Linked DNA regions of Homo sapiens. The protein of the gene in region 3 purifies or fractionates together with the protein of the main gene of each other region. This does not show direct contact. Each region holds a gene or a part of one and is shown on either strand. Other genes may lie near its edges.

Region 1 (7,105 bases), on a different chromosome or scaffold from region 3:
CACCCAAAGGACACTCAGCTGTGTTTCTGTGAGAGGAGGCAAGTTACTATCCCACACAGATGGGTGGGAATGACCAGGTGAGAGCAGCACACTGACTGTGAAGGATGGTGGATGTAAAACCAGCTGGGAAGAAGGTTCTGGCTTCAGAGAGAAGCAGAAGGGCAGGCTGTGGGGGCAGGGGCTTAGAACTGCTATGATGGAGCGGGTGTCAGTGCGGCTGCCCAGTGGGTACAGGAGTGGAGTAACCCGGGGCCTGGGCTAGGGGACAGCCTCACGGGGAGACCGTGTTGAGCTGGAGTGGAGCCTGTTGAAGGGCAGGGCTGGAGTAGAAAGCATGGACTTTGGGGTTTGGCCTGGCTTCAGGTCCTGGCCAGTAGAAGGACAGGGTGGTTTGGGCTCAGTCAGGGGTGGGGAAAGTGTGGCCTCTTACTGACCAGTTGGCTTCTCTCTTGGTTGCAGGACAGTGATGGAGACAAGAGTGATGATCTGGTGGTGGATGTTTCCAATGAGGTATGGGCAGGCCCGGTCGCAAGGGGGCTCTTGGTTTGGCATGGTTTGGAATTATTCCTCCCCAGGGTGGGATCTATTCTGTCTGTTCTAGTATTACTGGCAGCCTGAGCAGGGAGACAAGGCCTCCAGTCTTGGGGTCTCAGGGGGTCAAGAGGAGCAGGGCAGGGCTTTGCTGCATGGTGTCTGGGCATTTATGGGCCTGGAGGGCCTCCTGCAATGGGTCTCCAGAGAGACACCCCCAAAGATCCCAGGTAGGGGCCATCTTCTATTCCCCGTGATCCTCCGTCCCCCCAGGGTCTCAGCCTCAGGGGCCTGAGGAGGAGCTGGAGAGCATCTACATTTGGCCAAACCCAGCCATGCTGATTGAAGTCCTGAACTTGTGTTTGACATTGGGAAGACCATCCTTCCACCCTCCCTAGGCCTCAGTCAGACCAGATGGTTAAGAGCTAGTTTTTCCTCACTGTGGGGCCCCCAGTCTTTCAGCCAAGCTCGTCTTCCCATCGCCCATGCCCTCTCTCTTCCCACTCCCAGAGCAGGGAAGCCTCGAGGCTGGCTGTTGCTTTCAGTGCATCTCTGCATCACTTGTGTTTTCAGGACCCCGCAACGCCCCGGGTCAGCCCGGCACACTCCCCTCCTGAAAATGGGCTGGACAAGGCCCGTAGCCTGAAAAAAGATGCCCCCACCAGCCCTGCCTCGGTGGCCTCTTCCAGTAGCACACCTTCCTCCAAGACCAAAGACCTTGGTCATGTATGTGGGGTCTGGGTGGAAGGGAGTGGGAAGGGAGCGGCAGGGACTGGAGCTGGGGTGGTGCCGATTGGCAGGCAGAGGGGTGGAGTGGGAGAAGCTGGGTGGGTGATTGGCCCCGGTTTACCTTCTGTGCCTGCTGGGCCTGTGCTAATGAGTTAACGTTTCTGAGCCTCGGTTGCTACGTCTGTAAAATGGGAGTGATCACCCCAGTCCCTGCCAAACAAGGTTGGGCAAGGATTGAGAGGCTGTTCGGCAGAAGCTTCATAAGGGTCTGGCTCTGGGCTTCACGTTGGGACCGGCACCAGTTGTGCCCGGCTCCTAGGAGAATGGAAGCCTCATGGCCTCCCTTGTTCTGCATCTCCCCTCTTCAGAACGACAAATCCTCCACCCCTGGGCTCAAGTCCAACACACCAACCCCAAGGAACGACGCCCCAACTCCAGGCACCAGCACGACCCCAGGGCTCAGGTCGATGCCGGGTAAACCTCCGGGCATGGACCCGATAGGTATAATGGGTAGGCACCATGGGCTGGGTTAATCTGATTGGGGGGAGGGGGTCTGCTCTTGGCCAGGGCAGGGGTGACACACACGCATGGGATAGAGCACAGGCAGTGTCTCCCAGGGCCTGCCCCTGGGGACTTCACGGTCAGATTTGAGGAGGTGACACCAGGGTTTCTGGGACCCCTGCTGGGCCAGACATGAAAGCAGCATCAGACGGGTCAGGGCTCCCAAAATCTGTTCCCACCCCTGTCATTAGTCCAGTGAGGCTCTAAGCAAGCCCATTTGGGCCTCCATATCCTGCTCTGTAAAAAGAGGTGGGTGCATCTGCCAAGCTCTAAGCTTCTTTGGCTCTGAAGGCAGGGATCCCACTTGGGTGGGTTCAGTCTGAGAGGACTGCCTGGAGCAGGCAGCTTAAGAATGCAGGGAGGGTTATTGCTGGGTGAGGCGGCCATGGCCATGTCCCAATCCACCTAAGGCCCACCTCCCTGACGCCCACCCCTCGCAGCCTCGGCTCTGCGCACGCCCATCTCCATCACCAGCTCCTATGCGGCGCCCTTCGCCATGATGAGCCACCATGAGATGAACGGCTCCCTCACCAGTCCTGGCGCCTACGCCGGCCTCCACAACATCCCACCCCAGATGAGCGCCGCCGCCGCTGCTGCAGCCGCTGCCTATGGCCGATCGCCAATGGTGAGCTTTGGAGCTGTACGTAGACCTTTTGGCTCCTTTCTTGGGGACTGGGCGTGGTGTGGGGAGCCAGTGGTTGGACGGGTGCTCCCCACATGCTAAAGGGGCCCCTCAGGGTCTCAAGGCCAGGCAGCTGCCCCTGTGGGAAGGTGTATCGGAAACAATTGAGACTTGGCTGGAAGGGTACACTCTTTGGGGCCAGCAGACCTGAGTTCCATCCCCCACTGGCCTGTGAGCCGCCCTGTGACCTCATGCAAGGCAGCCTCCCTTTTAGTCTGCAAAACGGGGCTGACACCTGGCTTTCCCAGCTCTGGGGGGTAGGAATCCCAGGGCAAGTCAGGTGATGTCCATGGAGCAGGGGTCTCGTAGATGGGACTGGTTGTACAAGACTTTCTATTGTGGTGAATAAATAATAAGAGTTAGGGGTCGAGCGCAGTGGCTCACGCCTGTAATCCCAGCACTTTGGGAGGCCAAGGCGGGTGGATCACCTGGGGTCAGGAAATCGAGACCAGCCTGGCCAGCCAACGTGGTGAAACCTCATCTCTACTAAAAATACAAAAATTAGCCGGGCGTGGTGGCAGGCGCTATTCGGGAGGTGAAGGCAGGAGACTCACTTGAACCTGGGAGGCAGAGGTTGCAGTGAGCCAAGATTGCACCACCGCGCTCCAGCTTGGGCGGCAGAGCGAGACTCCATCTCAAAAAAATAAAAATAAAAAGAAGAGTTAGGGTTGGCGGGGAGAGGGGCCCTTTTTCAGGAGACAGTTTTCCTTTTTACCTCCTGGACCTGGGGTGGCCTCCTCTCCACTGGCAGGCCCACTAGGACCACAGGAGAGGAAAGAAGTAGGGCAGGGCCAGCTCTGCCTTGCAGAACAGGGAGGATGCTGGTTCACAGTGGGGTCTGCACTGTCACCCCTTCCCTGCCACGGGCTGTCCTGGGCCTGTGTCTCCTCTGAATCAATGGGCTCTGCTCTGCTCAGCTTGTCTCTTGGGTTACAAAGTGGCAGAGCCGTGCAGGTAGGACCCCGGGTGGGTGGTGGAGGAGGCAGGGGTGGGGGTGTGTGGCAGCACGGCTGATGGAGGGCTGTCTTGCCTTGCTTTACAGGTTGGTTTTGACCCTCACCCCCCGATGCGGGCCACAGGCCTCCCCTCAAGCCTGGCCTCCATTCCTGGAGGAAAACCGTAAGCTTTGGCTATACTTACTGCATGCTTTGTAGGGTGGGCAGGAGAGAGCACTCTACCCCCAATTCCAACAACGCCCCTCATCCCCTGACCAAGGGTTTGCCCTGGTGCACCTCCCTTTGGAAAGGTATCTGTCCCTCTAGAGGCACCGAGGGCTGGTTGCAACCCCAGGAAACTGTAGCCAAGCCACACTTCTGAGCACCCACAGAAGCTCCCTCCGACAGAGGAGCCATGGAGTTAGCTAAGTACATGGCCACTGGGCTGGGAGAGAAGGAACACTCCTCACCGAGTCACCTGGAGCTGTGGTGGGCCTTGCCGACTCCTTTGGGTTCGACCTGCTGGGAAGGCCCCAGTGCCGCTGGTCGCAGGCCCTTCCCTGTCAGCAGTGCTTCCCTCCCCTGGAGGGCACACTCTCCCCGGCCCTTCACTTCCTTGGGTTGCTAGGAAACTAAAAGATTGAGCCTACAGATAATGCCGAGACACTGCCTGACACAGTCCTCTAATTGTCAACGAGAATCTAGATGCTGATTGAGAGGGCACCCACCAGAGCCTGAAACAGCAGGCAGGCCAGGCTGGCTCACCACAGGCTCTGACATGGACTTTCCCATTTGCTATTGCAGGGGCAAGCAGATCCCTTCCCTAATACCACCGGCTCCTAAAGCAAGAGGTGGCATTTCAGCCAGGCCCTTTCCAGGGTTGGCATGTTGGGGGAATGTATGGATCGTGGGAAAGGGCATTCCAGGACACCTGTGGGTTTCTGGTCTGATTTGAAGCAAGGATATATAACTGGGTGTAAAAATCAAAGCTGGTCTGTTAATCATGTCTACCTCGATGGAGCCATCCCAGTACATGGGGTTACTGGGTTCGAATGGTTTCAGAGCAGAGGGGGCTAGAGGCAGGGCAGCCAGTCGGGGGCAGTGCAGATGACCTGGGCCAGGCCTATGGGAACTCTGAGGGGCCGGGGTGGATGGCAGCAGTGACGGTTTCTCACCTTTTCAGAGCGTACTCATTCCATGTGAGTGCTGATGGGCAGATGCAGCCCGTGCCCTTCCCCCACGACGCCCTGGCAGGCCCCGGCATCCCGAGGCACGCCCGGCAGATCAACACACTCAGCCACGGGGAGGTGGTGTGTGCCGTGACCATCAGCAACCCCACGAGGCACGTCTACACAGGTGGCAAGGGCTGCGTGAAGATCTGGGACATCAGCCAGCCAGGCAGCAAGAGCCCCATCTCCCAGCTGGACTGCCTGGTGAGAATCCCAGGGCTGCTGCGCCGCCTCCAGCTGGTGTAGGAGGATGGGGCAGCCTGGGCCACAGGGGAGAGCCCCAGGGCCTGGCTCAGCATCGTATTGGCTGAGCAACTTTAGGCAAGCTGACTAACCTCTCTGAGCCTCAGTTGTGCCTTCTGTGTGTGGGGCTGATTCTGACCTCCTGGTATTCATGAAAGATCAAAGGGTTGTGAATTTGAGGAATGGGGACAGCCTGGCAGCTGCTGGGTATAGGGGGAGGCTGTAAGCAGGACTGGTGAGGGTGCTCGGTGTTGCTGGACAGGACTCTCCTGGTGCCCAGGAGGGGAAGTAGGCAGCACTCAGCCCTGCCCCTTCTCCCTCCAGAACAGGGACAATTACATCCGCTCCTGCAAGCTGCTCCCTGATGGGCGCACGCTCATCGTGGGCGGCGAGGCCAGCACGCTCACCATCTGGGACCTGGCCTCGCCCACGCCCCGCATCAAGGCCGAGCTGACGTCCTCGGCTCCCGCCTGTTATGCCCTGGCCATTAGCCCTGACGCCAAAGTCTGCTTCTCCTGCTGCAGCGATGGGAACATTGCTGTCTGGGACCTGCACAACCAGACCCTGGTCAGGTGAGCCGGCAGGAGGGAGCATTAGTGCCTCGTCCTGGGGAAGTTTTTACCCATCCTGCCTGGTCTTGTTTGCTGTGACCTTGGCCCTGTCTGAGGCACTGTGGGGTGGCCAGAACCGTTGGGATGAGGGATGCACAGGTGAAAAGACAGCTCCGCCTGCCTTATGCGAGGGACAGAGGAGGGAGGGCCATTGGGCCCAGGAGTTGGAGAGGGCTCTGGGAAGAAAGTGGAGCTGGAGCATGTCTGGGGAAGTGGAGGTCAGATTAGTGGAGCAAGCAGAGAGTCTGGGAGCAGAGCCCCAGAGACCAGATTAGGGAGACCCGACTGGGAAGCCACATCACGTGGTAGCTAAACAAGCCTCAGGACAAAACTGCTGGCTTTGAATCCTGCCTCCACTATGACCTAGTGCAAGTCGCTGAACCCCTGCGGCTCAGTTTCTTCCTGTGTAAAACAGTGACAGTGGAGCATCTTCCTCTGACTGTGCCGCAGCGCAAAGGCAGACGGGTGCCTGGCCCAGCTGACTCTTGTATACATGGGCTGTGTGTGTTATTCAGCGTGTTCATGGATGGCCTCAGCCCCATAGTTCATGCAGGATGAAGAGATAGATTAAGAGGGCAAATTGAGGGCGTGTGGAGTGCGAGTTAAGGAGCTGTGTCCTAAAGGCAGTGGGGCCCTGCATTCTCTTTATCAGTCATCTCACACGTAGCTTCCCCAGGGCCTTCCTGCCTTCCTCACCTTCCTGAGCCTCCAGCTCCACCTCCTCCAGAGGCCCACCCTGGAGGGACTCAGTCTCAGAAGGCTAGTGCAAGGTCCCTTTTTCACCTCCCCCCCCCATTTCCCAGGGGACTTGTCCCTGGGCAAACCCTTCCGTGGAACTGGAAAGAGGCCTGGAACTGGAAAGAGGCCGGGGCTAGCTTTGCTGCAAGCTCGCTAAGGGACCATGCGCATAGTGCACTCTTCTGGGCCTCAGTTTTCTCTTCTGCTCAGACTGCCCCTGGGATGGCCGCCACCTGGCAGTCTGTGGTTCCCGGGACTCACCCTCCTCCCTGCTTGGCTTTCGTAGGCAGTTCCAGGGCCACACAGATGGGGCCAGCTGCATAGACATCTCCCATGATGGCACCAAACTGTGGACAGGGGGCCTGGACAACACGGTGCGCTCCTGGGACCTGCGGGAGGGCCGACAGCTACAGCAGCATGACTTCACTTCCCAGGTGTGCGGCCCAAGACTCCTCCCTTCCCAAAGAGCAGTGTGTTCCCTCCCTCCGGGGCCCCAGTGGCTGGGTCAGGGACAAAGGGACCCTCACAGAGTGGCCACGGCCAAGAGACTTGGGACCAACCTGAGCCATCTGGGAAGGCTTCCTGGAGGAAGCAGCAGTGAAACAGATGGAGATGACCTTGGGGTTGGACACATTTGGCCCAACTGTGGAAATTCGATTCATTCTCTGCTGCTATTGAGCACTTTGTCCTCGGCGTCCTCATTCACAAGATGGAAATAATAGTAGCACCCTCCTAGGTCTGATGTGGGCACCTGAAATGATCCCTCTAAAAGGCGTAGCCATAAACCCGACTCACAGAAAGCATTCAGTAAATGCCAGGGATTATTATTTCTTATTTGCATTCCTC
Region 2 (7,105 bases), on a different chromosome or scaffold from region 3:
TCTGTTTGCTATTAGTATACATAGAAGGCACTCAGAACTGGAAATAATAAAGCTCTAGTACATACTTATTATCAGATTTCGATAAACTCTTTGACTGTAACTAGCAAATACTCCTGGAAGGTATGAGGGAAGTCAACATTGCTAGGAATCAGAGAAACCGAGGCGCAAAGGGCTACTCTGTTTCTAACTAATTTAATGCACAATGTGTTAAGTACCTCCCATCCATATACTCTGACGCAAACGTCATGCTAAGGATACAAAACTAGGTAATGCACCTGGTCTTGCCCACAAGTGACTAACAATCTAGTTAGCATGATGAGAGAAAAGTACAGAAATGACAATATCAGGTCACATTCTAATGGAAAGTATTCTGAAGTGTTTTGAAAAGGAAAGAAAGTTTATGTTGGATGAGAGACAGACATGGTAATAGAGATGGGTTTTTAAAGAATGAAAAGATACCATCGAGTAAAGAGAAAGATGGAAAAAATATTCCAGATAGCAAGAATAGCAGAGAGCAAAAGTTCCAAAAGGATGAGGTAAAATGAGCTGGGAAATCCTTGAATTGGTTTTAATCCAGGAATTCATTCAATAATAACTACACAGTAGGTGGATGGAGGAACTGGCCAAGCATAGTCTGAAAAAACATACCAGATCTATATCTCTATATAATTAAAATCAATGTAATGCTATAAAAGGGAAGGACCAGAATGCCAGCCTGAGACCTTCCCAGAATTGACTGAAGAGATTTTTGAGGGATAAAGGGAGTGTGCCATTACTGGGCAAAGCTATTCATAAAATAAACTTGGTAGCAAGGAGTAGGATGGACAGGAGGAATTAAAAACAATTATTCCTGTTGGGCGCGGTAGCTCAGGCCTGTAATCCCAGCACTTTGGGAGGCCGAGGGGAATGGATCACTTGAGGTCAGGAGTTCGGAGACCAGTCAGTGAAACCTCATGTCTACTAAAAATACATAAAAATTAGCCAGGTGTGGTGGCGCATGTGCCTGTAATCCCAGCTACTTGGGAGGCCGAGGCATGTGAATCATTTGAACCCAGGAGGCAGAGGTTGCAGTGAGCTGAGATTGAGCCACTACACTCCAGCGTGGGTGACAGACCGAGACTCTCTCTCAAACAACAACAACAACAACAACAACAACAAACAACAACAATTATTCCAACAATTTAAGTAAGAGGTACTGGGGGTCCTGAACCAGGCAAGGGCAAGGATGACAAGTTAGAAGGTACAATGGATATAAAATCCTGTAGGACTAAATTGACGAGATCTGAGGAGGAGCTAGAGTAACTGAGTTTCTGAGCTCAGGAAAAAAGAAACATGGTACTTGTAGTTAACAAAAAAAGGGCAAACTGGGAAGAGGACCTAATTTACAAAAGTACTTTCTGAATATAATGAATTTGTGGTGCAAGTAACATACACCCAAGATCCCTAGCTAAGATGCCCAACAAATAACTAGAAATACAGGGCTGGAGGGAGAGGGTGCAGGGAGTCAGAGAAATAGAGTGACCTGACCTCCTCTCAACACGAACACACACACCACAGGTTAAGCTGCTACGAGCAGAGTGGCTCTCCAACAAACATGGCGATGAGAATAAGAGACAGTTGAAGAAAATGCTAGGCTTGGACTCTCTGACATAACTACACTTTAAACAATCCAGACACATGCAATTTGCTTTTTTAAAAACATGTGTGTCAAACTTGTTATATATGGATTATCATCTTGACAAAGACCCAGCATATTTAAAGAAGGTCACTGGCTTTCCCACCTTCCCCTCATTCTCCTCTCTGAGGCCCAGTTCTGTTATGCTGTGCTCATCTCTCACGCGCACAGTACCTTCTCCACATTTCCAATGTGTCACAAGATGGGCTTCGACCTTGAGGTCACAATGAGAGGTCTGGTTATTGTATTTTACATTGAAATACGATAGAAAATTCTGTTCTAAGTAGCATACAGACCAGTGAGTTAGCCAACAAATACTCGTTGAAGGTTTTTACTATGTATCAGGCATTATTCTCATTTGAAAATCTTGCTTTATAAAAATAAATCAATGCAAAAGAGTCAGATTTCTGAATTGTGAGCAGCCTATAATCCACTAACGTGAGATCTTTTATTTTTGCTGTGTTCACATGTCACATCTCATACAATTAGTACCGTGATGTTAATCAAATAGTTATACACTAGCCATAGAAGTCTCATTTGAGTAGCAGGTGAAGGAGAAGGGCCATTTTTGGCTTATGTTGAAATTAAACTATGCTGTTATTCCAACTACATATGAAGTAGAACCTCTGCTAATTCACCTGAGCAGACAAGAGGATTCAATGTGAATTATACAATAAACACCATTTTATTAATTTGGAACATGCATTTAATTATAATTTCTGATCATATCTAGCAATTCATTGTGTGAAATAATTAGAACAGAGACACATAACTTTTATAAGTCTTTCTGGAGAAAGGTAGTTACATTGTGGGTATGTATGGTGGAGGAAGACTTTAGGTGATTTTTTATTTTATTTTCTAGCACACTTAAAAAAGTTTTGTCTTGAAAAATATGCACAAGACAACATTGCACAATTCAGTATCTTATGATCTGGAGAGCCACATAACTGTTATATTCATTTCTGCTGTAAAAATCTATAATAAAAGTATATTATCTCTGTATGCATATAAGTGAATGTAACTTTATACGTCTTCATGCTCTGTTACATAAAGACACACCAATGACCCATCTTCTTGGGTCACTTCTGCCCCTAAAACACAATGTACCTCCTACTACATAAGTAGCTGAAAAATGAATAATATGCTGGGACAAAGCTGAAAGGGAAATAATGCTGGGGTTGACTAAACAGCCACCATGTAACAAATGTGGCACTGAATGAACACACAACATATTATCTTACTTCCTATCTTCACATCCTTCTTGTTGAGGAGGGGCCATCCCTGATTCATGAATGAGCTGATTGAAGCTCACAAAGAAATTGTGCATAAAGCCACTCTTCTCAGTGGTTCAACTGGCAGAGTCTAAATTCAAACTTGGATCTGTCACACTCCCAAAACCATACTCTGTTGACTGCACCACATGCTTTTTAGTAGTGTCATTTTCCTGGTAAAGTGTCATTTGCCAACTGCAGTAGATGTGACTCTGTCACTCTCATAAACAAAAATTCTCAACAATCCTCCAATCCATTAACCCACCCTAAAGGATCTTAAACATTTAAACATTTTATAACATCGAAAGTTAAAACTGATGAAGGGAAGTCAGCCCAAGACTCAGAAGCACCATCTGAGTCAGAGCAGCTGTGATTCCACAGTGGTTTAACTGGTCCAAATCCCTTAGCCAAGGTGTTTCCTTAAAGACACTTACACCCCTTGCCCCTCGAAGCAGCAGCTGAGGCAAGAAGCATCATCTCATTTGCTCTAGTGGTTATGCTGTAGCTCTGGGTACAACTGTTGGTTACCTAAGAAGTAACCAAAAAAAAGGGATAGTACTTCTTCCCTAAAGGAACCCTTCCACTTTCCCCACAAGTTCATATGGAACTTGTAGGTATCTGAGTCATTATTTGATTAATTGTATAACCTTGTTATTTAGCATTGCTTGAAATAGACCCAACTTTCACCTTCAAATACATCAAAGTTTCTTGGTCAATAAGACTTGTTAGTCAACAACTATTTGCAAAACACACACAGGTACACAGAATTTTATGGTAATTGATATTTATACCTTCAACTCTTGAGGAACTCTAATTTGTCTTTTCTCCCCTATTAATCAGCCAAATATTTACCAAGCAACTTGGCTGTGGAGCCAGCACTGTGCTTGATACAACAAAGGAAGGTTAGGATAGAGTCTGTAGAGAAGTATTAATATGCTACAAAAGGAAGAACTGAGATTTGGATTCCTCAGATGGAAAGTAAAGAAAGGGTCTAGGTTAGGCAACACTGAAGGGATGTGGGGAGAAGAGGGCACGCAATTAACACCAGGGTGAAAACTAAGTGCCCGAGTGTGTGGGAGTGAATAAACAAGCAATGGGAGGTCCGAGAAGAAAGAAATCAGCACATATCCATTCCCTGAATAAATCCATACCGTGAGCACCACTATGAACCAGGTACCATTCTAGGCAGTGAGACTGCTTCTATAACTGAATAGCAGAAAGTTCTGTTCTGTTTTCATGGAACTTATAGTCAAGAGGGAGAGGCAGATAATGGCTATAAAAAAGCATTAAAAAGGTAGTAGAAGAGGAAAGAATAGGGAGGAAGGGAAAGAGGGATAATAGGGTTGTCAGGGCAGAACGCTCTGACATAATGACATCTTAGATAACTAAATGAGACACTAAGCCACAGAAAGTTTTGCAGGAAGAAGGACAGTAAGGACAAAATACCTCAAGGCAGGCAAGCTACCAGGGAAGCCTCTGGGAGAAGGCGCCTTGAGCTGCTACTGAGGGTCAGGTCTGGATAGCCCTGGAGACTGGGGAGGCAGCACATACACGGCATGTGTAGTGACAGAGGGGATGCCCACAGAAAGAGTGATGAGAAAAATGCACACACACAGGTGACTAACAAGGCAAGGAGGATCTGCGGGGGAGGCTTCCCAAAGGAGAAGCGAGAGAAAGCAGCCAGCTGGGATTTTAAAGAAACAGCCAGTGCTACTTTATAGTAAAATCTTTGTTTCTGGGAAGATGAAGCCAATTAGCAGAGACAACTGTGATTAGGTAGTAATAAAAAGGTGCATTAGATTAAAATAAAGTATTTGGAATGAGATCCGTTCAGAGAAGGCTAGAACAACTGGTGTGTTGTGTTTTGTCTTTCCTAACTCAAGGAATCTGTGAATACAGAGGCTCCAGATGCCCAGAGCACGGTATAAGAAGCCAACTAAGCAAGTCACCTTTTCTGAAAACAGAACTAAGCATAAGAGTGCCCTTATTTCCTTTCAGCCTTTGAGGTTTGGCATGTCTTTTCCCAACATATTCAAATTTTGAACATTCAGGTTTGCACATAATAATCAGACTTTTGGAACAAAGAATTGCCTTGAAATCTGCAACAGATGTAGAGAAGACCTGACTACTGGAGATGCCTCTGCAATTTGCATTTACATATTAAAGCTCAAAATTTTACAATGCAAAACCCCACTTCATTACTTCTCTTCTTGTGCTAAGAGAAAATGAAAAATACCTTGCAAGGTAAAAAAATACAAGTCATGGGAACTCCCCCAACACTGTCTAGTGGTATTCTAAGTCTACGGGGCCAGCAAGGGACCTGAGTTTGACACACAATGAGCACAGAGGCAAAAAGGTACTCACGGTTTTCCTCCTGGAATGCCTGTCAGGTTTGGAGGTATTGCTGGCACACGCATGTGATGGTGTGGATCAAATCCCACCTAGAATTTTTCCCAAGCAAACAACAGAAATAAGCACAGTTACATTTGACTTGTTTTATCCTTCTCAAAATCTATTCTAAAACCTGGGAGAATAGATCCTTTAAAAATAAGGTTTTAGAGATATATACAGAAGTATTTATTGGTGAAATGATAACCAATGTTTAGGATTTAATGGTAACATACTTGGGGGTGGAACACAGATTAAAAAATTATACTAATGATTATTGAAGCTCATGGTAGAACCAAAGAGTCATTACATTCATTATACTATGTGATCTAATTCTGTAGGTTTGAAGTTTCCAAAATTAGTATCATTTTGGAAAATTTAAAATTAGTATTCTTTTAAAAAGACATATAAAATAAAAAAGAAACTTCTTCACCTTACAAAAGAAAATGGACCTCAAGATTATAATCACATGTAGCTTAACTTATAAATACCCACAGATCTCTAAATACCTTAGATTATATAAATTACATTAAAAAATAGATAGGCCAGGCATGGTGACTCATGCTTGTAATCCTAGCAATTTGGGAGGCTGTGGCAGGCAGATCATATGAGGCCAGGAGTTCGAGACCAGACTGGGCAACATGGTGAAACCCTGCCTCTACAGAAAATTTTAAAAATTAGCTGGGCATGGTGGCGCATGCTGTTTTTTCGAGCTACTTGAGAGGCTGAGGTGGGAGGATCGCTTAAGCCCAGGAGGCAGAGGCTGCAGTGAGCCAAGATCATGCCACTGCACTCCAGGCTGGGTGACAGAGCGAGACCCTGTCGCAATCAATCAAGCATGACAATCCTCCGTGTGCTAAAATATTATTTGTGAAGCTCACAAACGCACCACTGGTGATCTCCCATAGGCAGCAGCAGCAGCGGCGGCGGCAGCAGCTGCGCTCATCTGAGGGGAGATGTTGTGGAGCCCAGCGTAGGCCGCTCCGGGGCTGGTCAGCTCTCCGTTCATTCCAGCATGGGGCACAATCCCAAATGGAGTTGGATATGGACAAGGTACTGCCATTGGGGTCCTTAGGCTTGAGGCTGCAAACCAAAATGGATGGAAGAAAAATGAAGAACACAGGAAACAACAGTGAAGACATTTGTAAACATGTCACAAAATAGAATCTATGGTTCAAATGAGCTTATTTTAATATTCTCAAAAGTCATTCAAGCCTTCAGAATTCACTCATTCACTTTGTTCTATTGAACACTTACCATGTGCCAGACAAGGTTGGTCCCAGGTGCTCGGTTCAGGTTAAGTAACTTTGTCTAACAGCCATTCAATGCTGGTCATTAGCACTTTTAATGTACTGTACTCCTTAAATTGCTTTAAATTCTTAAAAACGAGCATAAAAATATAGAAAAAACTTTTTTCTTACTAACCCAAAGGGTCAACTCCTGGTGGTTTTCCAGGTACAGGCCTCAATCCGGGAGTAGAGTTACTGCCTGGGGTGGGCGCATCAGTTCGTGGAGTAGGGGTATTGGACTTTGAGACGGGAGTAGTAGATTTTTCATTCTAACAAGATGAAATGACATATACCAGCAATTAGAACATGGTTTTAACAATGACGTTAAACAGTAAAAAGGTAAAGAAAAGGAAAGGAGGAAAAGAAATGGAAGAGGTTCTTCAGCTTGGGCCTTGATTTTCTTTAATAGAAAAGTTAACAAAGAAACAAAAGAGTTCCTTGAGACAGCAGACCTAATATTTGGGAAGACATAAACTGAAGCT
Region 3 (7,572 bases):
GATATGGTAGCTTGCTGAACCAAGTTAAGTCCCTGTCAGGCCTGTTCATCTCTAAAACTGTCTGGAAAGAAGGATCTTTGCCGGCATCTCCAAACCTAGCTACAGAGAGGAAGGCTGGGCAGCCTACTCCTGGGGCAGGCAGGAGGCTGGGGTAACCAGCTGTCCTATGACAAAGAGTCCAGGCCTAGCATACTGCAGCGACTCAGATCTGGGTCGAGGCTCATCCCCTCCTCCCCCAACTGCCCAAGCAGGAGAAGGAGCTGGTCCCCTACCTACCCAGGCCCATAAGAAGGAAAGTGGCCAAGAACAAAGCCAAGGCCCTCTCCAGAGCAGAACTGGGGTTTTGATTCGTAATTAGCTGAGCGGGGAGAAATAGCCCAAGAAATGCACACAGCCCCAAAAAGGCCCCACTGCCCGTTCTGCATCCGGGACATGTTGAAGTGTTGTTGTATGTGTGTGCAGAGGCACGGACTCTTGTAATAAAATCGTTCCTAGTCTCCCGGCCAGCCCGAGCCGTGCAGCCTGACAGCTCAATCACTCTATCCATCAGGCGAGTCAATCAAAGCAGCTTTTCGGAGGTTCAGGGAGCCCGACGTGTCAATAACGGGGCTCGAGATGGCGGGAGCTGATAGTGCGCATCGATCCGCGCCCGGCCGGCAGCTGTGGGGCGGCGAGAGACCAGCCAGAGGAAAGCGGCGCGTGGCTACGTTGTTCCCGGCCCCCTGCCGGACCGGGTGTCTGGAGTGCTGATCTTGGGCCAAAGCTTCTGCCGCTCTCCCAGACACTGCGGGCCGGGGCGTCAGGCAGGCCTTGGCCTTCTCTCCCGGAGCCCAGCTCAGGTCTCCTCCTCGGGTTCGCCAAGCGCGAGGGGCACACGGAAAAGTGGTGGAAGGAAAGCCGAGAAAAACAGGCCTACGGATGCCAGAAGTCTGCTGGATGTGCGGGTGAAAAAAGGAAAGCGCCGCGCGGGGAGGATGCGGGAACCGTTCCGCGGAGAAGCTACGGAGGAAACTGGCTCTCATGCCCTTGGACACGCTTCCTGGCCTGAGCCTGACCTGTTTTCTCTCCTCTCCCACTGTTTTTCAGCTCCAGAAAACCAGGGGCTGCCAGCACCCACCTTTTTGGCAACTGCCTTTCCCTGGTTTCTACCCACCCGGGTCAGACTCTTTTCGCTACCCAGCCGGGGGAGAGGGACGGCTTTCAGACGCTTTCCTCCCTGTCTTCCTGTGTTTCCCATGTTTATCAATGTAAACGGTCTCTCCGCAGAAAATATCGAGATGGTGTTTGTGTCTGTAAGGACACACAGTGAATATAATTTTTCTGAACAAGGCCTTCTCTGGTCAAATCTGGCCTTCGGACGATCAGGCTGGTGGGATTTCAGACACACATCACTAGGCCCACCTTCCTGCCTTATCTAAACACCCTGGAAAGAAAATCACTGACTATGTACTTTTCCTAAGAATAATAAAGATAAGAGACAAAGAAGGCCCCAGGGATTCAGAGTTCAAAATCAAAGAATCGAGACCCGAGCCTCCTGTGCCACGAGCTGTAGCTTCTCGGGTGGTGGCCGCAGAGGCCAGGATCGCATAGCTGGATGAACATTCGGTTGTGACTGGAACTGGGGTGAGGAAGCAGGCGTGAGAGACTGGAGTACCCGAGGCCGGGTTTGCTCTCCCTAGCGCCGCAGCTTGGCGTTCTGGGGCGGTCCGCGGGGCCAGAAGGCATGGCGCAGCCCGGAGTTGGGTACTCACCGGAGGATGGACGATCCGAATAACGTGTGCAGTACACCCAGGCGGGCCATACGAGAGGCTGCTGCGAGTCAGTTTTGACCACGGGCCCGCCGTTGGCTGAGCCCATAAGTAGGATAGCCGGGTTGCCGTGCTCCGGGTATTTGGTGCCCTGCGCTCCGGGGCTCCCCGCGCCGCCTCCACTGCCGCCGCCACCGGTGTCCGAGGGCTTGGCTGCTGCGGCCGCCGCCGCCGCCGCCACTGCCGCCGCGGCCGCCGCCGCCGCCGCAGCCGGGTTCCCAGCTTTAGACGCGCCCGCGCCGGCGGCGGCTGGCTGGGAGCCGTCGGGTGGGCCACAGTTCGCGTCCGGGGCGCACAGGAGCGAGGCAGCGCCTGGCGCCCGGGTGCCCAACGGGTGGACAGGGTCTCTACCTGCGGCAGTCTGGCCTCTGTCACGCTCGACCCGGCCTCCTCCTCCTGCGCCTCCTCTGGCCGCCGCAGCCACCAGAAGCTGCGGTGGCGGCTGCTCCTTTTTGCAGCCGAAGTCCGGCCTCAGGATGTTGTCGATGAAAAAGTTGGTGGTGCGGTGCAGCTGGGCCGCTGGCTGCGGCTGGTGAGCAGGCGCCGCGAGATGCTGAGGCGGCGGGGGCGGGGGGTGTGGGGGGAGGTGCGGGTGGTGGGCCAGGGGCGGCAGGCAAGGCGCCGCGGGCGGCGAGGGGGGCGCAGGCTGCGGGGACACCGGCACGCTGTCTCCATCGCTGCCGCTGCCGCTGCTGCCGCTGGCGCCCGGACTGAGGCTCAGGCTGAGGCCGCCCGGAGTCGCCGCCGCCGCCGCGCCGAGGGCCGAGTCGCGCTGACTTTTAGGTTCCGGCTGCTGTTCTTCCATGCTCGGCCGCCCCGCCGCCCCGGCCGCCGCGCCGGCCCCCGCCCCCACCGCCTCGCTCCCCACCCCACTTTGCCAGCGGCCCGTGGGGGTGCGCGGAGGAAGGAGGCAGGCGAAGCCTCAGCGAAGGCACGGGGCGGGTGCAGGAAAAAAGCTCAGGCGTCTGGCCTGGATCGCTCGTTCTTATCTAGCAGATAGATCTCGCTGTCTCTCCCTCTCTAATTTGTAGACATCCAGATATGGAGACACTTGGCTATTTCTTTTTTCTTTCTGCAACCAGATTCAATGATTTGATTTAAATGGGGAGTAAGCCACGGCCAAAAAAATGAAGGAAAAAAAGAAAAAGAAAAGGAAAAAGAAAGCAAGAAAAAAAGCTCCAATAATTTTTTTCTTAAAGGGAAAAAAATAGTATTTAAAGTCTAGCCATCTTCCTAGGCAGTAGTGAGGGGTTTGACTTCCCCGAGTGTCACGCTCAGCTGTGCCCAGAGCGTGAGGCTGGCAGCGCCTTTAATCGCCTTTGCTTTTTTTGCAGGGAGAGCGCGTCTCCGCCAGCGCCGGGCTGTTTTTTTTTTTTTTTTTTTTTTTTTTTTTTTCAAATCTCTGACAGCTCGGATCTTTGCACAAACTCTCTCGCTTAAAAAAAAAATCACCCAGGCACACTTTTTGCCTTCAAACCGGAAGCACGTGAGTCAGGGCCGCACGTGTGCGGAGCCAATGGCGAGCCGGGACTCGCGCTGACACTCGGGCCTCGGCCCAATGGGCGCGCGCGGGACTTTGCGGATAAATAATCCGGGGGCGTCAACCGCTGGCGGAGAGGGGGCGCCTCGGCGCTGGCCCTGTGCGTCGGGTCCGCCCTCCCCCACCCGCGCCCGCACCCGCGTCCCTCCCCCTCCTTCAGGCCGGGACTCAGGAGGGGGCAGAAGAAACCCGGGAGGGGTGAATTTTGGGATGTAGGCAAATGGAGAAGCAACTCCATAAACAACTTGTTAGAGAAATGCAGGATTATGGGTCTGTGAGCTACGGGAGCAGGGGCAGTAGGCAGGAGCCTGGCTGTTTTGCACCCCCACGCCTAAGAAACTCAGCTTTTTATTTTCTCCTCTGTCTCTGGTTGCTGTTATTGAAGGATGGGTGGTTGTTGTCACTGCCGGTTTGTGTGTTTGTGGGTGGGTGTGGGTTTGGGTGTGTGTAGTGGAGGGAGGGGGAGTGAGACAGGGAGGTCGGTGATGTGAAATAGACCTAGAGTTGGTTACTTTCAGAGGCGCAATTTGTTTTTCACAAATAGCAAAATCTGAAAGGCCCGCTGCGCCTAGCTAGCGTCGCACGTTTACGTTTGTACGTCTCCTGCCGGCCCGCTGCATTGCTTTCCCTTTGTGGGGAATCCGCACCCATGCCCTTCCCGGTCCAGACTTTCGACAACACCCTGGAGCTGCCCTGGCGCCATAGAGCCAAGCCCAGAGGGCTAGGAATAGCCCCAGAGCCAGTTGCCTGGACCTTCCCTGGCAGTGGGAGTCCGGGCAACGCAGATTAATCTCAGGAGGGCCCCGGGGCCGGCGAGTCAGAACGCGGATGCGCGCTAGGCCCTAGCTTTTAGAGTTCAGGGTAACCTCTGTGTTAGATTTCCCTGCAAAGTAAAATCAAATAAATGAAAGCGCTGCACCCCAAGTATTTGCCCTGGCTAGCTGAAGTTGTGAACAGGGAGTTTCCCTCAATTGCCGGGTGACTGAATTTCCTGGGATTGCTCCCAACTCCCTGGGTGCCTCCGGCTCCAGCTCTGTGCGTTCTTCCCTAGTTTGAGGGAAATGCCGTTCCTCCAGCTGCTATCATTCTCCCGTCTGCCGATCTCTTTTTCGCTATTTCCTGGTCGAGGCACCCCCAAAATTTTCTCATAACCGGGAATGTGAGGGACGGGGGTGGCGTGTGGACTGAAGCTCTAGGCACCTGCGGGACTTGTCTCCGGATTCGTTTTGGAGGACCAGTATCCGACTATGCTGAAGCCTGCGGTGGCCGAGAAAGGCGTCAGCAAACGAGGCCTTCGGGGGTGTCATCTTAGAGCTCCAGCGGACCTCCTCGCCCTGAACGCCCTCCGCAACTGGGACAGTAGAGAAAGGATCCCTTTGGAAATATTGTCTATTTGTGACATGCGAAAGAATCCCCCTACCTCCAGTTTTCCAGAAAAGTCACAGAGGGTTAGGCTAGGAGGAACATGCAACTAAACCCACAACAAGCCGAACCACCACCACAGTAGCTGAAGTTTCTCAAAAGGGCTGGTGGAGAGCAGGAATTTATATTGCTCACCGCATCTTGGGAGCAGGCGAGGGTCCCCCGATTTCCGGGGCTGAGTTCCCGGCTAGACTTGCGCTGCAGCCTAGGGGAGAAAACCTCTCTCCCTAACGCTGCGCTGCAGTCTTCTCTACCTTCCCAAGCCGCCTCCAACCCCACCTTGGAGTCTCCCGAGTCCTCTTCAGTAGCACACCCAAGGGCTCCCCGAAATCTCCAGGCGCCCCCACCCCTTCTCCCCGAAATGGGGGTGGGATTTTATTTATATTTAAGTTCGCAAAATTGAAATCTTTATCCCGCAAGCAAGCGTGGGTACTTAATTAAATTCTAATTAGGACACTATCAATATCCTATTTAGCTGCGTAGCTTTTGTGCGCCGCGGTCCCTTTCAGCGCGGTAAATAGGGTCTCGACGCCTTATCTCGCCTGCAGGAGACGCCTCGAGAAGGGCTGCGGAAGATAATTTATAGGTTTTAATTACTCTTCATTCCGCCTGATCAGCTTGGCGTTCATCACAGGCCTGTGAATAAAACCCTGGTCAAAAGCTCTGTCACATCGCGCTGGCAAGACGCTTAATCAAAGTGAGCGGCCCCGCGCGCCGCGCGGCCCGGCTCCTCCACGTAATTTCCAGCCAGCTGATAAAGCCAGCTGAATAATACGGCGGCCCTTTGGAGACACCATTTACAGAAATGACTTTATTGACGGCTTAACGTCGGTAATTCATTTTACCTTTCATGTAGTGGAGCCCGGATTTGTTACAGTAATGGGATGATAAATGCACCCGCGGCCCACGAGCTCGAGCTGGATTAGGCGGCACTCTGCGCGCTGGCTCGTCCCCCCACCTCCCCGAGGCCCGGCCTGGGCCGGACGCTCGGTACCCCGCGCCGCTCTGCGCTCCATGACCTCCACCCAGACCCTACGCCCTCTTCTCCCTCCTGCAAATGAACATGCCATTGGGAACTCTGTGTGAGCGCATTGGCGTCTTGTCAAGCATGCGAGTGAAGTGTGTGAGGGCTGAGTGAACAAATGTTGGCCGAGAGGGATGGGTGAGGGTTTCACAGGACTCTGAGTGAGCCCAGGATTGGGCGTGTGAGTGAGGAACTACGGGCAGGGTGAGTTGTGTGTACAAGTATGTGAGTAAAGGGTTAGGGTGTGTGTAAAGGATTGTATATGCACGAGTGGGTATATTTGTGTGGCGGTCCTTTTGGGGGTACTCGTTTCTGCCTTTGGGAGCTAAGGAATTACTTTCAACTTGATAGATGCCCAGGCCGGGGTGGCAGAGAGGTGGGCCTGCAGGTAGCAGGTGGGGAAGCCTGACTCAAATGGAATAGAGCCCCTTTCTCCAAATGCCATCTGCTCTTGGGCCGAAGGTAGGGAAGTGTGGGGGTACCCAGTGCGTATTTCTATGGCCTTGTAGTTCTGAGCTATGCAGTCACCTGAGCTAGAGGCGCACAGAAGGCCATGGACTGGGCTGCGTCTCTGCAATAAGTTGATTGTCCCCAAGTACCCTTTTCTTGGGGATAGCCCAGATAAAAGTGGAGAACGACAAGAAAGATAAAGATTCTATTTTGTCTCAAATGCCAAAGTTGGGGGAGGGGTGCTACATTTTTTCACTTGAAGGAAGGAGGTCCCAACGAGGCCTTCAGTGATCGGGAGTTGGGTAAATAGGACAGAGAGAGACCCCAACCGTCCTTCCCTTCTCCAGTCCTTGGACTTCCTGCATTTTCTGAGGATAGGCAGGGGCTCCCAGTGAGCAAAAGGCACCTGGCCAAACAGAGGAGAATGATGCATACTTGTTTGAGGAGCTGCTAGCTAGGGGAGTTTGGGGATCATATAGTCGGAAGACTGGCATGTGTTTATCAGAGTGAAGGCTGAGAAATTTTACCTTTCTTTCTCTCCTTTTCTAATTTTGGGAAAAACGCTCAGCGGTCTTGAAGAGTGGCCCGTGGCTGTGGGGAACAGAGTGTATATTTGTGTTTATTTGCTTGGTATGTGAGAGCCACCCAGAGAGAAAATTAGTCTATAAAAGTATTGTGTGTGTGTGTGTGTGTGTGTGTGTGTGTGTGTGTAGTTGTGTGTGGCAGGAGGCCCCTGTATGTATGTGAATGTTAATGTGTACACCCAAGTCAGCCCCACTAGTCAGGCATGAAGAAATGTATTTGCTGAGGGTTTTGGTGTATGCTGTTCAGAAAAGAAGACCAGCCTGTGTGTCCATAGAATTTTGGATTTTGTGTAAGCAAAGACAAATGCCAGGGTCCTGCTTGTTTCCACCTCTCTTTCGAGGATGAGGACCAGAAGGAGAATTACGAAAGAAATTCTTGCAGCCTGGCGAGGGGTGTGCGCCATGGGCTGGGAGTAGGAGCATGTTGCATGCACAGGGTGGTAATCGCATTTCGAGTGTAGATCAGATGGCGGTGGGGCCTCGTGGTGCGGGACATGAATGAGTTGTCGCAACACAATAGCGTGCAGCCTTCCTACGGGGACTGGATGACCAGCGGTTTTGTTGGGAGTGAATGCGAGGAGATTTCTGCTACAAGTGCCGCGTTATTATGAGCTACAAGGTCAGACTATACATCGCAGGTCCCCAAAGCCTATGGACCTTGGGAAATGTGGGGCCTCGAGTCACGTCATTGTACCTGACAGTCTTTTTCAATAGACTAATTCAATTAGTGCTCGCGGTTTCGGT

What was found.
Region 1: the proteins of EN1 (region 3) and TLE3 purify together in Homo sapiens (affinity purification with mass spectrometry; 2 studies listed by BioGRID and IntAct, with this or other methods). This does not show direct contact.
Region 2: the proteins of EN1 (region 3) and TLE4 purify together in Homo sapiens (affinity purification with mass spectrometry; 2 studies listed by BioGRID and IntAct, with this or other methods). This does not show direct contact.

The regions. Positions count from the first base shown.
Region 1 is NC_000015.10:70,052,815-70,059,919, reverse strand, and holds part of TLE3 (transducin-like enhancer protein 3), read left to right. Parts: intron 1-459; coding exon 460-510; intron 511-1,104; coding exon 1,105-1,257; intron 1,258-1,628; coding exon 1,629-1,761; coding exon of another isoform or gene 1,762-1,770; intron 1,771-2,261; coding exon 2,262-2,461; intron 2,462-3,545; coding exon 3,546-3,622; intron 3,623-4,621; coding exon 4,622-4,871; intron 4,872-5,234; coding exon 5,235-5,482; intron 5,483-6,545; coding exon 6,546-6,693; intron 6,694-7,105. UniProt on the Homo sapiens protein: Transcriptional corepressor that binds to a number of transcription factors. Inhibits the transcriptional activation mediated by CTNNB1 and TCF family members in Wnt signaling.
Region 2 is NC_000009.12:79,707,905-79,715,009, reverse strand, and holds part of TLE4 (transducin-like enhancer protein 4), read right to left. Parts: intron 6,893-7,105; coding exon 6,760-6,892; intron 6,418-6,759; coding exon 6,224-6,417; intron 5,388-6,223; coding exon 5,311-5,387; intron 1-5,310. UniProt on the Homo sapiens protein: Transcriptional corepressor that binds to a number of transcription factors. Inhibits the transcriptional activation mediated by PAX5, and by CTNNB1 and TCF family members in Wnt signaling.
Region 3 is NC_000002.12:118,844,555-118,852,126, forward strand, and holds the start of EN1 (homeobox protein engrailed-1), read right to left. Parts: upstream 3,095-7,572; 5' UTR 2,614-3,094; coding exon 1,752-2,613; intron 1-1,751. UniProt on the Homo sapiens protein: Required for proper formation of the apical ectodermal ridge and correct dorsal-ventral patterning in the limb.